Linked DNA regions of Homo sapiens. The protein of the gene in region 1 interacts with the protein of each later gene in a biochemical or structural test. Each region holds a gene or a part of one and is shown in the gene's direction. Other genes may lie near its edges. The genes, in order: GDI2 and RAB2A.

Evidence for each region.
Region 2: the proteins of GDI2 (region 1) and RAB2A form a complex in vitro, tested with the Homo sapiens proteins (one study listed by BioGRID).

What each region holds. Positions count from the first base shown.
Region 1 is NC_000010.11:5,809,849-5,818,689, reverse strand, and holds the start of GDI2 (rab GDP dissociation inhibitor beta), read left to right. Parts: upstream 1-5,255; 5' UTR 5,256-5,431; coding exon 5,432-5,476; intron 5,477-5,492; exon of another isoform or gene 5,493-6,375; intron 6,376-6,733; exon of another isoform or gene 6,734-8,841. UniProt on the Homo sapiens protein: GDP-dissociation inhibitor preventing the GDP to GTP exchange of most Rab proteins. By keeping these small GTPases in their inactive GDP-bound form regulates intracellular membrane trafficking.
Region 2 is NC_000008.11:60,617,088-60,624,701, forward strand, and holds the end of RAB2A (ras-related protein Rab-2A), read left to right. Parts: intron 1-1,492; coding exon 1,493-1,561; intron 1,562-3,586; coding exon 3,587-3,682; 3' UTR 3,683-6,557; downstream 6,558-7,614.

The sequences.
Region 1 (8,841 bases):
GCACTCTGGGAGGCTGAGGTGGGCGGATCACTTGAGGCCAGGAGTTCAAGACCAGCCTGGACAACATGGTGAAATCCTGTCTCTACTAAAAATATAAAAATTAGCTGGCCATGGTAGCTGGCGCCTGTAATCCCAGCTACTCGGGAGGCTGAGGCAGAAGAATCACTTGAACCCGGGAAGCGGAGGTTGCAGTGAGCCAAGATCCTGCCATTGCACTCCATCCTGGGCGACAAGAGAAAAACTCTGTCTCAAAAATAAATAAATAAATAAATAAAATAAAGACTGGGAGCAGACAAACAGTTTTTAGGGGATGGTTCTGGGTGAATGATCATAAGCTAGGAAATATATATTTTTGGAACTATATTAAAATTCCTTTCTAGAGATCCCACTATGTTCCCTCTGCAGCATTAGCTATCCAGGTTTTACACAGGTTTATGTTTTATAGATACCTATCTCTAAGACTCTTTAAAATATTAGTTTTAATATCTCTTCCTAGAAGAAAAGTTGTATTTCTCCAAAGTATCAAGAGGAACTGGGGCCTGGCGTGGTGGCTCACACCAGTAACCACAGCACCTACGGAGGTTGTGGTGGGCAGACTGCTTGAGCCCAGGAATTCAAGACTAGTCTGGGCAACAAGGTGACACTCCATCTCTACCAAAAATACAAAAATTAGCTGAGCATGGTGGGCACATGCCTGTACTCCTAGCTACTCAGGAGGCTGCGGAGGGAGGATCACTTCAGCCCGGGAGGCTGAGGCTGCACAGAGCTATGGTTGTGCCACTGCACTCTGGCCTGGGCAACAGAGTGAGACCCTGTCTTAAAAAAGAAAAAAGGAAACTAGTACCAATATCATCATATTCAGTCCTTGTTGATCTAGGGCTCAACTTCCAAGTCCCCTATTCATTTGTCAAATATTTACTCATCCTCTACTAGTTGCTCAGCCCTTTACTGGCTGTCCAGGCTTCATATCCCTGCCCCTATGGAGTTTACATCCAATTTGAAAAGCAAAGAACAAGTGAAGAAAATAATTACCCCCTCTAATAAGAGCAGTGAGAAACAAGCAGGGTACTGATAGAGAATGATGGTTGAGGGGAAAGCTGAGACCTAAGGAAGTGGAAAAAGTTAGCTGTATGAAGAAGTGCAGGGGGAAGTGAGGGGTGGTAGCCATGGAACCAAGAGTACAAAGGCCCTCGGGTGGTTGAAAGCTTGACCAGATTCTAGGAACCGAAACACATGCATGTTTGGGGTTTAATGATCAAGGAGCCAAGGAGCACTAAAAAATAGAGTTGGAGAGACATACAGAGGCTAGATTAAGGTATTAGGTCATATTTAAGGATTTACAATGTATCCCTTTTTTTTTTTTTTTTTTTTTTGAGATGGAGTCTTGCTCTGTCTCCCGGGCTGGAGTGCAGTGGCGCCATCTTGGCTCACTGCAACCTCTGCCTCCCAGGTTCCAGCAATTCTCCTGCCTCAGCCTCCTGAGTAGCTGGAATTACAGATGTGCACCACCACACCAGGCTAATTTTTGTATTTTTAGTAGAGACGGGGTTTCACCATGTTGGTCAGGCTGGTCTCGAACTCCTGACCTCAGGTGATCTGCCTCAGCCTCCCAAAGCACTGGGATTACAGGCGTTAGCCACCATGCCTGGCTAGGATCTACAATGTATTCTAAGTACAAAAGATATACAGAAGCCTGAACATGATCTGATGCGTGTTTTTAGAAGATAATGGACAGAACAGATAGGAGAAGAGGAAAAAGAGAGGGAAAAAAGCCTGTTGAGAAACTGCCACAGTGATGCAGGAGAGAAAAAGATGGTCTGGGCTGAGGTTCGCTCTCATTTTCTTTCCTTAGATTAAATCTCTCCTTTTCAAAGGGCAGATGGATGCTTAGTAAAAACAGATCAGCAAACAATTATTCCCATGTACCCAAGTATAAATAAGACTCCATGGATTCCTGCTTTGCATAAAGGTTTGAAATATTTTATTTTATTTTTTTTTTGAGACGGAGTCTGGCTCTGTCACTCAGGCTGGAGTGTAGTGGCGCGATCTTGGCTGACTGCAACCTCAGCCTCTCGGGTTCCACTGATTCTCCTGCCTGTCTCCCGAGTAGCTGGGACTACAGGCATGTGCCACCACACCTGGCTGATTTCAAGATTTGAAATATTTTAAAGATTGATGGTGTCCTGGTTTGATCTTGGGTTTTGGCACCAAAAAATAAAATTAAAAATAAAGATTGATGTTTACCACTCATCTTCACCAACCAACCTACTTCCCCTAAACCTAAGGTTTCACTGTAGCAGGAACTACCATCTGTGGCATGAGATCAACTCAACCAATTAGTGGCTTTCAAGCCTCTTCACCTTAAGCAGTATTTGTCATCTACAAGTTCCCTTGCAACTGGAATGGGTGGGGTGGAAGATCCAAGAAAAGCACAGAATTTTCTTTTTTTGAGACAGGGTTTTGCTCTGTTGCCCAGGCTAGAGTGCAGTGGCATCATCATGGCTTGACCTTCCTGGGCTCAAGTGATCCTCCCAGCTCAGCCTCCTGAGTAGCCAGGACTGCAGGCTCATGCCACCATGCCCAGCTGATTTTTTTTTTGAGACTGAGTCTCGCTTTGTCACCCAAGCTGGAGTGCAGTGGCACGATCTTGGCTCACTGCAACCTCTGCCTCCTGGGTTCAAGCAATTCTCTGCCTCAGACTCCTGAGTAGCTGGGATTACAGACGCCTGACACCACGCCCAACTAATTTTTGTAGTTTTCGTAGAGACGGGGTTTCACCATCTTGGGACGGGTTGGTCTTGAACTCCTGACCTCGTGATTCACCCGCCTTGGCCTCCCAAAGTGCTGGGATTACAAGCGTGAGCCACTGCACCCAGCCTGCCCAGTTTTTTTTTTTTTTTTTTTGAGACGGAGTCTCACTCTGTTGCCCAGGCGGGAGTGGAGTGGCGCGATCTCGGCTCACTTCAGCCTCCGTCTCCCGGGTTCAAGCGATTGCTCTGCCTCAGCTTCCCGGGTAGCTGGGACTACAGGCACGTGCCACCATGCCCGGCTAATTTTTGTATTTTTAGTAGAGATGGGGTTTCACCATATTGGCCAGGCTGGTCTCAAACTCCAAACTCCTGACCTTGTGATCCGCCTACCTCAGCCTCCCAAAGTGCTGGGATTACAGGCATCAATCACCGTGCCCGGCCTCCAGCTAATTTTTTTTATAGGGACAGTGTCTCTGTTACCTAGGCTCTACAGCACAGGCTGGTCCCAAGTGATTCTCCCATCTCCCACTCCTGGCCCCAAGTGATCCTCCCATCTCAGCCTCCCAAAGTGTTAGGATTACAGGTGTGAAGCACTGTGCCTGGCTCAGGTACAACATTTTAGATGCACTCAGTCCGTTAAGGCTTAGTCCAGGTTTGATTGTTATTGTCCTTCTGTTGGGCCATAGGGCCTGTACTGTGAACTAAAATGAACTTCAGTGTTAAGTAAGGAAGGGATCCTTATTAGCCTTAAATTCAATTCCCTTATCTCAGTGTCTTCAAGTTTCTCACAACTCTTGAGTATCGATAAAATAGTCTTCACCTAAAACATGGTTAACATAATTCAGTTGACATGCTTAAATTTCTCTTCAAGAGCCAGAGGCTGATGGCAATTGTGAAAAAAGCTCTTTATTGTTATTGCTAATAAAAAAAAAAGGGCCAATAGTCAGGTGTGGTGGCCTGTACCTCTTGTCCCTGCTACTGGGGAGACTGAGGTGGGAGGATGGCTTGAGCCCAGGAGATCAAGGCTGCAGTGAGGCATGATTACACCGCTGCACTCCAGCCTGGACGACAGGGTGAGATTGTCTCAGAAAAATAAAGAAAAAGGGTTATTTCATATTGGTTCAAAAATATAGGTAGTATGACCCCCTGATGACTTGAAGACAGAGCAACAGAAGGACCTTCTTTAGTCATCATTAGCTTAGCCAAAAGAAAAGTCAGTTACACTCACTGTTGCATAATCAGTTGTATGGTCAACTGTGCACTAATTCATTTGGTCACAAATATATACAATCAAATTAAGGTTGAATGTAAATTTAAACTTTACTTTTGCTTTCTTCTCCCCTCCCCCCCAGAAAGATCCATGGTCCAATATAACATATCTTCTTCAAGTATTTATGGGGTAAGAAACATTTTAAAAAGTTGTTACATTCTTTCCTCTATCTTAATGATTTAAATATGAGCAAGTTCGGTCTATCAAGGCAGGCTCTGAATAGCTACTATCGAGAAGTATTTGAGGAGTTCTTGAATGCCAAATCTTCATTGTCTGCTGACTCTGCAGATTTATCACGTGCTGAAAGCACAGGTTTTCCAACTGTCAACGTCTTTACGAAATTCACCTGCTTAGGCTTTCGTGGGGTCGGCCTCTTGGAGCTGAGAACACAGCTTCTGCTTACACCTGTGTCCTCAATGAAGCCAGAGATTCCTAAGAGAATTCTAGAAAAAGAGGAGCGGGGTAGAAGGCAAGCAAGGAACAGTTTCTAAGCTTAGGGCCTAAACCTTTGCATACAAGGATCAGCTACCACGTTTACAGCGGCTTTAAGTTACAGCCCTCGGTAGGTGCAGATCGGCTTCCCAATGAAACCTGGCTTTCACTTTCATCTCTGTTAAGGGTTACCTTTTCAAAAGAAGCCGCTTTTCCTCCTACCAATTTCCTAAAGCGCCCACCGGCAACGCACTAAACAAGGAGGGCACAGAGCGGGAAAAAGGACACGTGTGATTTCCGAACTCTTCCCGGCGGGCTCCGGGCCCCGGCAAGCCCAGCCCCGCGGGAGGAACCAAGGCCGCCACCCCCGAGAGGCAGCCCGGCCCGCGCTCCTCGCCCACGTGGCCGCCGCACGCGCCCGCTCAAAGTCCAAGGGCGGCGATCCGGCTCTGGGACCTTGGACCGAGCGAGCTCCCGCCCCGACGGCGGGAGTCAGAACGGTGGTGGCCAGCAGTCCCCGCCCGCGGCTCCGTGCACCTCCACCCCGGCCCGCGCGCCGCCTCCCGAACCACCGTGGCAGAGGCCGCAAGGGGAACCGGAAGCCAAAATGGCGACGCCCCGCCCTTTTCCTCTCGCGAGAGGCGGGGAAGGAAAAAAAGTTGTGCGAGCGACGGGGACGTAACCAATTAGAGTGCCGGGAGCGCCTGATTGGCGGCCCTCCCGGCGCCTGCAGGCCCCGCCCCGGCTGCGGAGGCTCAGTCACAGCCCTCCCCTCCTCGCTCCCTCCCCTCCTCTCCCCGCCCAGTTCTTCTCTTCCCGTCTGAGGTGGCGGTCGGTCTCGCCTTGTCGCCAGCTCCATTTTCCTCTCTTTCTCTTCCCCTTTCCTTCGCGCCCAAGAGCGCCTCCCAGCCTCGTAGGGTGGTCACGGAGCCCCTGCGCCTTTTCCTTGCTCGGGTCCTGCGTCCGCGCCTGCCCCGCCATGAATGAGGAGTACGACGTGATCGTGCTGGGCACCGGCCTGACGGTGGGCGCCAGGGCTGAGGGGCCGGGGCTGAGCAGCCGGGGCGGGCGCACCCCCGGCTCCTGCACGGCCCGCGGGTCGCAGCTCCTCGGGGGTCTCGTTCTGCCGTCAGCCGTAGTTTTCGGGACGGGAGTCGTGGCTAGGGGCGCGGGCGGGTTCAGGGGCGCCCCGCGTCCCGGGGCGAGCGGGCGGCTCCCAGTGTGAGGGGCAGGCGGGGAAATGGAGATGCGGGCCGTGAGGCTCGGGGCGGGGTGACGGCCGAGCCCGGCCTCTGCGCTTGCCCCCAGCGGAAGCGGAGGGGAGGGGAGAAGGCCGCCCGGGCCAAGGGTCCCGCTCCCCGGTTTGGGCCGGTGACCTCGCCCGGTTGGAAACCAGCACCCGAGGCGGAGGGGACGGTGCAGGCCTCGCGGTTGCATTTCCTATTCCGCCTCGGCCGCTGCCCCGGGTCAGTCTGGCTGCCAAAGCCGAGTACGGGGTTTCCTGACAAGTCTTGGATAATCACTGCTTCGGAACTGCTAGGGCTTGATTAACTTATATTTTTGGCGAAAACGTGGAAATTAGTCTTTTAATCCTTTCTCCCCCCTGCTAATGAGAAGTATTATTGAATCCTTTTAGCCACCCTCCCTTCTCACTTACTGAGCATCTGTAGAATTGGAATTGAGTTTTTTCAAAACTTGTCCGTCAAATGCTTTCGCACCTGACCTTCGCCGCCTTTTCCTTTTGTTTGGTGGGTTCTCTGCCTCCTTTGTCTCTTCTGGACTGTTTTCCCCTAAGAATTGGGTTGGTGATGGATTGCTAAAAGCCAAGTTCTCTGTACTCCGAAGCTTTCTTCAGGGAGTTGGAAGATAATAACATGAAGAATGCATTGTAATATATGAATGCAAGGTGTACCTAATATCATGGTATATTGATTTTCCTGGTTATCTGTTTCTAAGGGAACTTTAGGTAATCTGTAGATAACGCAGGCAGGTTCTGTAGTTTGTACTTTTTCTGTTCTTTTTTTTTTTTTTTTAAATGTTCATCTTGCAAAAGAATTCACTTTGGAGAAAACCATTTTAACTATCAATTTTTGGGGAAATTTGAAATTCTAACTTTGGGCTGCTTGATCATAATTAAGATGAATACTGATGTAAATCTTGTGTATCCTATGTACTCTGACTTCAAATTCCTGAGTCATTTAATGTAGACTTCCACTTCAAATTTTTTGAAATTTATTATAATCTCTCAGGGTCAAACCAATTTTTTTTTTTTTTTTTACAGGTAACATCCCAAAATAACACTTTTAGATGTCTCTAGGCAAGAGAAAACCTTCGAACTTTTATTTGGCTAATTTTTTAGGAAAGGTTTGTGAAGAATTAGAATCGTGTTTTTCTGGTCTGTCATTTTTCTGTTTATAGTTATATGCAATTATTAGAGAATATTCATTCTGAATACTTCGTTATGTTTGACCAATCCAGGAATAATCCTGTGTCTGTCTTTGAAAAGCTGGAAGACTGTTGGATGCCTAAATGAATAGGCCCTACCCACTGCAGGTTTTGTGCTTTTTTTTTTTTTTTTTTAAGTGCCTAATTGGGATTCCAAGCTGAGCTTAGTAGTTTGTGGTGGATTTTGCCTGTTGGAATGGGTAGTGTTGCTGCCAGCGTGTTTTAAGAGCCGGTTAGTTCCACCGTTTTTCTATGGTTGTTGCTGGTCTTTCAGATTTGCTCACAATTGAGGTCAGTTAAGCATGCACGAGTGAGTGCAAATCCACCATCATGCAGGCTTCCACAAGCCTCGTTCACATCACTTTGTATCAAAGATGGTGAAAGTGTTTTTATATAACAAGTTAAGATAATGAGCTTTGTTTAAATTTTCATTCGGATTGTGAACTCTTTGATGAATGGTAGATGCATACTTAACTAGAAATCAGACCTGTTTCTGCTGTCATTTTGTAGCTGTGATAACTTTAATCTCTGTGAGCCTTCCTAAGTTTTCTGAGATGTTCTTTGATAATTATATCAATTCAGGACAATCACATTATTACCATCATTGATAGGAGTAGTGATGACAGGATGATTTTGATAATGAGAAATCATATATCCTTATTTTTAGTGTTACCAGGAATTAGATGATTAAAAATTAGAAGAAGAGAAAACCAAAGTTAGCACTCAGAATTAACTTTTGAATGTCTGGAGTTAATTAATTTTCTTAAAATTTACTTTAGTGCCTGAGACTTAAGAACCTAAAAAAAGGCAAGTACTTTCAGTGTTAGGAACTTGTTACTTTTAAAGAAGTGTAAGGAAGTGCTGGAGTTGCTGTGTTGCTTAGTGCTGCCATTGTTTGTATGAGTTGTTAAGTCTAAGCTCATAATCACAAATATTGATAGTTATCTTAATCAAGAAGATACAAAACGATTTGGTATAAAGGAGTAAAATCTTCATTCTGTGTGTAAAAGAAATGGAATATTCCACACAATTGAATTTTCTGAGGAACTAAAGGTTATCTCTAAAGAGCACAGCTTTTGGATAATGCCTTTCTAAATGCTGTCACAACTTCTTTAACAAACTAAGAAACATAATTTACTTGATAACCAAGTTTTCACATAGTGAAGATTAACTATTGTGTTATGCTGTAACATGGTGAAGCCATGAAGACCCCGCCAGCTTTGTAGGAACTTTTGCCCCCTTTACTCTCAGGCTGCTATGCTTTTTGAGCTCTTCAGTTTACTCTTCATATTTTTTCCCTCTATCTTACTTTACTGTTAGGCTGGCAACATTTACTTTTCTCTGCTTTCAGCATGTGTAGGCAGCCTCTCACCACATAATTTGCACATAGTTCACTATGGACTTGGAAATAAATTCACGAGTCTTGTTAGACATAGTAGATTAAAACAATAAGAGTAACTAGTTCCACAGCTGTTTGTGCTTCCCAGAGGTTTTTTTCTTCCCATTTTTTGTTCTACACAGTAAGAATTTATGAATAGAAATATATACTTTAGTGATGTATACCAGATGATTCTCAGCATCATATGTTTAAAAACTTGCTTTACATCCCAGATACTTTTCCTCATTTCTCTTTATCAGAATTTTGTGATTTCAGATTCAGAGAAGGTTTTATACTTGATTTTAAAATTCTGAACTAAAATTCAGATTGCCTCTTGGATTTGCTTAATCTTTGATTTGCTCTTTGAGAGTTCTTGCTTATAGCTGTGTTAGAGTTCTGTAGACAAAGGACTTTCTATTCACTACAGTAGTGAGCATAGGATCAATATTTGCAAATGCTGTTACACTTGGGAGCTGTGTTGTAGGCAGTTTAAACCAGCGTTAAGCATCCTGGCCAAAAGAAAATATAAGTGAAATTAGACATATTTTAGCATGTAGAGATGACAA
Region 2 (7,614 bases), on another chromosome or scaffold:
TATTGATTGGTACTGTTATCTGTGATCTGTCAAATCTGATAGTTTAGAACCTATTCAGAGTTTGTATATGCCTTCTATAGCATTCGTAATATTTATATATAATTTCTAAATATTTTACATAGAGAATGCTTGTGTATAAATTTTGGTATTTATAGGCTTCATTTGGTCTACAGTATTTCAACAGTAGTTTTTTATTTTGACAATTTAATGGCAAAGAAGTTGAGCCGTCTTTTCTCTCTTTATCGTAAGCGTCCTTTGATTTTGCTTTCTTAAACTATATACTAAATAATACATTATCATGGCAAAAAAGGCCCTGAGTGGAACTGTATTATCCAGAAGTAAGCTAGTTTTTACATGGAGGATTATGCAGTTTACATAATTGAAATGTGTTTTTCTCTGTGTGCTGTTCTCATATTCCAATATTCTTTTTTCCTCTCATGGTCATGATGTTTTCTTTTGAGATATAATTCACATACCATAAAATTGATGCTTTTAAACTATACAATTCGTTAGCTGGGTGTGGCAGCACACACCTGTAGTCCCAGCTACTCAGGAGGCTGAAGTGAGAGGATCACTTGAACTGGGAGGCAGAGGTTGCAGTGAACCGAGATTGCGCCGCTGCACTCCATCCTAGGCGACAGGGTGAGCCCCTGTCTCAAAAATAAATAAATAAACAATTCAGTGGTTTTTAGTCTATTCACAAAGTTACACAACCATCACCACTATCTAATTCCAGAACATTTTAGTTACCCCAAAAAGAAACCTCATACTCATTAGCATTCTCTCCCCTTTTTCTCTTCCATCTAGCTTCTGGCAACCAGTAATCTACTTTCTGTCTCCATGGATTTGCCTATTCTAGACATTTCGTACAAATGGAGTTGTAGTATTGTGGCGTTTTGTGTCTGCCTTCTTTCATTTAGCACAGTGTTTTCAAGGTTCATCCACATTGTAGCATGAATCAGTACTTCATTCCTTTTTATGGCCAAATAATATTCTACTAATTGAATATCTCAAATTTTGTTTTTTATTGACTGAACATTTCTGTAGTTTGCACTTGTTGGCTGTTGTGAATAATGCTGTTTGTAATGCTAATTAGCATGTGCGTACATCCTTTGTTCTTAATCTTAGGGGAAAGGCTTTCAGCCTTCATCTTCGAATATGATGTTAGATGTAGTTTTTCTTAGATGCCATTCTTTAGATCAGGTTGAGGAGTTCCCTTCTATTTCGACTTGAGTGTTTTTATCATGAAATGTTGGATTTTGTCAAATGCTTTTTCTATGTCTATTGATGATCATGAGGGCTTGTTTATTAATATAATGTATTACATCGATTGTTCTTTATTAATATGTTATTAATATCTTTGTTCTTTATTAATATGTATTACGTCGATTGACTTTCATATGTTGAATGTTATGATATTCTATAGAGCATATATAATGTTATTTTACTGCTTTGGTTTTATATAATATGAACCAATTTCTCTATATTTCAGGCATTTATTAATACAGCAAAAGAAATTTATGAAAAAATTCAAGAAGGAGTCTTTGACATTAATAATGAGGTATATACATATAAATATTGTTGGTCAATATTAATTTAGAGTTCACTTTTGATTACTATTTTATATTTTTTATTTTATAATTCATTATTTTATAATTTTTTTAATTCCTAAAATCAATCATGATAATCAGTTAACACCATTAGTTTACAGTCATCCAACTGAAAAATTGGTATATGTGGTATAGTAGTTAAATATTTATGTTCTAGTAGAGCAACACTTTGTCTATGGAAATGGATTAAAGTAAGTGGCCCTATCCATTCATTGCAAGCAATGCAAAATAATATAAATCCCCCAAAGAGAAAAGAAAATCCACTTTTATCCACATGACCATATGGTGTCATCTGCTTTGGGAATAATGTTCTGGTATATAAATGCATGTACTATGTACTAATGCAAGATGCTCTCTCTGTTATCTGGCAGGAAAGAGGGAAATACCAAATTTGGAAATTACTCCCAATATAGCATAGCATGTTTTCAGGAGACTAAATTCATATATATATATATAAAATTGGCATTTGGCATAGGGTTTTTTGTAATGTTATTTTGATCCTGTTTTGGTCAACATGATTAGGATAAAATGTAAAGCTTTGAAGCATCTAATTCAGAGTGTTCACCAAAGATCATCACTTGACCCACATCCCCACTCTGCATTTATCTGTATTTATTTCAAAATGTTTATGTGGATGTAGCCTACTTATTCTTACATAAATATTTTTGCCATTCTGTATTAAGATTTCTGGCTTCTGAAAGAAAAGCCCTGGTTTCTCCCCAGTTGCAGTTAGAAAAGCATTGTGTTAGGAAGCCATTATGTATGTCTCTCTCATCCTATACATAAATGAGGCTCTCTATTACTTCAGTAGTCTCTGCTCAGACAAACAGCAGTTTACCTAAGGTTTCCAAAAAGTACATGATTTTTTCATTGTTTAATTTGGAGTAATATAGTTTCTAAATCCTATCTTCTAGGCTTATATGACGGTACTTCTTGAGTTAGTTTAAAGGTGACACCATTCAGAGACTAATGCCATATAAATTGAACAGTAATTGGGCCTCTATCTAAAAGGGCACATTCATTGTTTCTGTCTGGTTTCATATAGTAGCTGACTGCTTTACTGTGCCTTATGCAGCTTTGATTGTAATGTGCTGTTGGGAGCCAACAGGCCGTGCTATTTATTTGGCCTAATGCCAAGTCTGACTCCTTGACTCCTCAAGAAGTTGCTACCAGCCCAGAGGGGGCAAAATCAATGAGCCATAGGGCATGCTTTTTATTAAAGAGGAGTCAAAAGAGCGAAAAGAAACCACATCAGCTGCTGTCAATACTGAGCTAGTGCCAGAAACCCCAAGGCTACTACTGTTGCAGAACAACTGCCAAGCACTATAAATCTGAGATTTACTGTGACGTAAAGTTTCCTTAAGAGCTTAATTTCTGAAGCTACTGTATTACTTTTCTCAAAGTGTTGTATTTTTAGGTAAAATCCACTTGAGGGAGTGAGGGTTAAGACATAAGTGTGAGTTTGATGAATGAAAGAACTACTCTGTGTGTGGGTTCTTGGCAAGCTGCCATGTCTTTGGGGATCATAGAAATTATTGATGACACAGAACACTCATATGCCCTTAGCCTGTACAGCTGATTCAACATGGAACAGAAACACTGTCTAGAGAAAAGATTTTACGTTGTATTAAAGCAGCATGGGCTTTGGGTATTTTTATGCTTTAAAGATTACTTGCAATAATTATTTTAAATGATTTCTGCATTATGAGAATTTCCTGAAAAGCAGCATTATCCAATAACTGTTTACCCCGTACCTGGTATGATAAAGAATTATTTTCAGAAACATTTCCACAGTGTTTTTAAAAGGAAGGAACATCCCTTAGGAGATATTGTTTTAATTGTTGCTAAAATCTACTTGCTGTATTTTTCTCAGTTGTTTGATAAAATTGTATCATAAAGAATTAAATGAGTTTTTTAAGAATTAGTTAAACTATATTGTCTGGTCATATTTATTGTTCTGTTCTCTTTTATTTCAGGCAAATGGCATTAAAATTGGCCCTCAGCATGCTGCTACCAATGCAACACATGCAGGCAATCAGGGAGGACAGCAGGCTGGGGGCGGCTGCTGTTGAGTCTGTTTTTACTGTCTAGCTGCCCAACGGGGCCTACTCACTTATTCTTTCACCCCCTCTCCTCCTGCTCAGCTGAGACATGAAACTATTTGAAATGGCTTTATGTCACAGAAGACTTTAATCCGTCAAATTCTTGTATAACTTTGAATAAATGGTTAATGTTCACTTAAAAGACAGATTTTGGAGATTGTATTCATATCTATTTGCATTTGATTTCTAGGTCAATTGATGTGATTATTTTTGTTAAATGTTGTCTTGTGCCCTTAACTACGAACTGAATTGTATTAAACACTACAAAGTCATCTTGAGTATTTTAAATCGGTTTGTGTAGTTAGGTTTCCCAACATCTGTGGTTACCTAATGTTTAATATTATAGAACTGTCCTCAGAAACTTTGTCAATTTTCACGGCTATAAGGAAACAGAAGGACTCTTTTAATTCTGTATTTATCATTTACTTTCTGTATATATAGTTTAATAACCTGCTTGGGTGTAATTTGCCAAGCTTGAATTCTTTAATGCATTTGCATAAATTCTATACTGTTTAGAGCTTAAAGCTACAGAAGCATTGTTAGGAATTGCTTGGACACTGAATTTTAAACTTTTTGACATTGTTAACAAGCATGTTCATCTTTTCTTGTCACTAGTCCAAGAAAAATATGCTTAATGTATATTACAAAGGCTTTGTATATGTTAACCTGTTTTAATGCCAAAAGTTTGCTTTGTCCACAATTTCCTTAAGACCTCTTCAGAAAGGGATTTGTTTGCCTTAATGAATACTGTTGGGAAAAAACACAGTATAATGAGTGAAAAGGGCAGAAGCAAGAAATTTCTACATCTTAGCGACTCCAAGAAGAATGAGTATCCACATTTAGATGGCACATTATGAGGACTTTAATCTTTCCTTAAACACAATAATGTTTTCTTTTTTCTTTTATTCACATGATTTCTAAGTATATTTTTCATGCAGGACAGTTTTTCAACCTTGATGTACAGTGACTGTGTAAAATTTTTCTTTCAGTGGCAACCTCTATAATCTTTAAAATATGGTGAGCATCTTGTCTGTTTTGAAGGGGATATGACAATAAATCTATCAGATGGAAAATCCTGTTACAAAGTAGAAAAGCTTTAGTAATTTACTCAGTGTGGTGGTTTTATCCTTTTTTTCTTTTTCTCCCTTGGTCTATAATGAAATTGTTACAGCAGTGCAAAATAAAATCCTATGTATAAAAGTGTTCTTTTTTTTTATTATGACCACCTCTTTTTTAATGTATTTTTAGTCCACTTACAGCTTTTACATGGGTTTAAGCATGTTTTTTAAAAGGGTCAGAATGGTTAACACTCAACCCTTTTTAAAAATTTTGCTAAAATGCGACAAATCTCACCATACTGAAATTATTTTTGTTGATGGTGTAAGCAGTGTAAGCAAGTGTTTTCTCCTGAACTAGCACAAAAGCACTTATGCCTGAAAGAAAGCATAAAGAAGTTCTAACTCTGAAACTAACTACTTTCATTTCGCTCATGGCCTTCAACTTTCTACAGGTCTTCCCTGAAGATTCAGCAGTACTCTCTCAAAGGTTTGACAGTACTCTTGTGGGAAATCACCAAATGCTGTCATAGTTTTGTTTTAACTGTCTCCTTGAGGGCAGAGGGAAGGGTGAGAGAAAATCTGTTTTCATGGGTATTTGTAGTACAGCCTTTTTTTCTTTCAAGTGGCTGTATCAAATTCACTGGTCTTACTAATCACTGTCTTTACCAGTGAGTACAAAAAGTTAAGGCAACTAGGACAGGTACTGCTCTATACCAAGAAGAGAATGATTCTTTGGAAATTGTTATTTTTAAGCTTCTGTTAATTTTTCCAGAAGTTTAGTGCGTTTCTTTTCCATACTTTCTCCCCTAATTCTTTTATTTGAAGAAGAGAACTTAATGGCAAATAAACAACAAACCAGGACATGCATTTTAATACCCTAAGGAAAAATGGAACCCTCAAATATAACTCCTCCCACAACCACCCTAATGTGCCTCAGTCTGGGGCAGCAGGTGGACTTCTCAATAGTTCTTTTCCACATTCTCTACAAATCACATCTACCGTTAAGGAATATGTTATGAATCCTTTCTGTTAATTGAGAAAGCAATGTTATTGTCTGTGATTTCCAGTCTTTGCTCATTTTATTATCCCTGTCAAATAATGTAATATTGGTACCTGCAGTTGAATTTGTAATATTGTAATTGAATTTTTAGTTGATCTTCGATCAGTTTTTATAGCATCTATGGACATAGAAAATCAGTCACTGAAAAAAATAAACACAGCTTTCAATGTCTCACTCAACATGTAACATTCAAAATTGTGATCTTCATAAAGACATTGTTACCATTCGTCTTGCAAATTTAAGACAACTGAATGAAAAGCCAATTTTTTGAAAGAATGTGGCATATAATTAGATATACAACTGAAACAGGATATACAACTGCATACAATTTGTTTTTAATGATATTTTAAAATAGCCTGTTAGCAGGAAAATAGTCCCTATTTATCTGCTAATGGTCAAAAAGAGTTAGGATATAAATCGTACCAAAATGTTTCCAATCACTCAGAAAAACTGATTCATGTCTGGCTTTGCAACACCTTAAACATTTATTCTGTCATAGATAGTAAAGCCCCATCTCAGTTTATTTAGTCCTGAGGTTGGCAGCATGGGGTTTGACTATATGAGCTAAAAGATACACAAAGAGATAACGCTGTTTCATAATAAACAGGAATTGACTATACAAATAGGTAAACCAGCATATCTACCTGTATTTCTCAGAGTTTAGATGTGTGCTTTATGTTTACATTAAAATAAAGCCTAACGCCACAGTAGATCATCTCATACTGCATTCGGATGTACTAGGTATTATTATTTTTTGGTTGAAGTCACGACAGAGAACTTCATTTTATTTATTTTGTTTATTTTGGGAGACAGGTCTCACTCTAATCCCCCAGGCTGGAGTGCAGTGGCGCCGTCTTGGCTCACTGTGACCTCCACCTCCCCAGGTTCAAGTGATTCTCATGCCTCAGCCTCCCAAGTAGCTGGGATTAGAGGTCCCTGCCACCACGCCCGGCTACTTTGTATTTTTAGTAGAGACGGGGTTTTGCCATGTTGGCCAGGCTGGTCTCAGACTCCTGACCTTAGGTCATCTGCCCACCTCAGCCTCCCAAAGTGCTGGGGTTACAGGTGTGAGCCACCATGCCTGGCCAAAAACTAAGTGCCAGTCTATATATTAGTATTAATTAGTTTTACAAAATTATGAGGCCAATTCTTAAACATTGAAGGACAAAGCACCAAACTCCTGATAGAAAAATGGAGGAAAATGAGCAATTTACAAAAAACATACAAAGTGTCCCTAAAATGCATTTTTAATTCAAATGTGAGTGATGGATACATTAATTTGCTTCACTCTAGTAACCTTCTATTTATGTGTATCCCATAACAGGTATACTTTTAAACACAATAAAATTTATTTTTAAAAATTCAAACAAATGCAAATTAAAGCTCAGATGCCATTTCTCACCTATGAGACTGGAAGAAATGTAAAATACAACGCCACATTGTATTGGTGAGGCACCTTTGTGTGGTGTTGGTAGAAGTGCAAACTGGAACTACCTTTCTGGAGGGGAACTTGGCAATACCTAATAAAATTACATGTACACTTGCTGTTGGCCCAGAAATCCCACTTGTAGGAATCCGCCCAAATGATAATTCTCCAATAAAGCAAAAGCTCCATATGCACAAGGTTACTTTCTGCAGCATTGGTTGTAATTAGAAATTATTGGAAATGACTTATATGTCATTTCCACTTATAGTGATTCAATAAACTATAGTGATTCACTAAACTGTGTCCATCCACACAGTGGAGTCCTACACAGCTATAAAGAAGGGTGAGGAAGAAGATC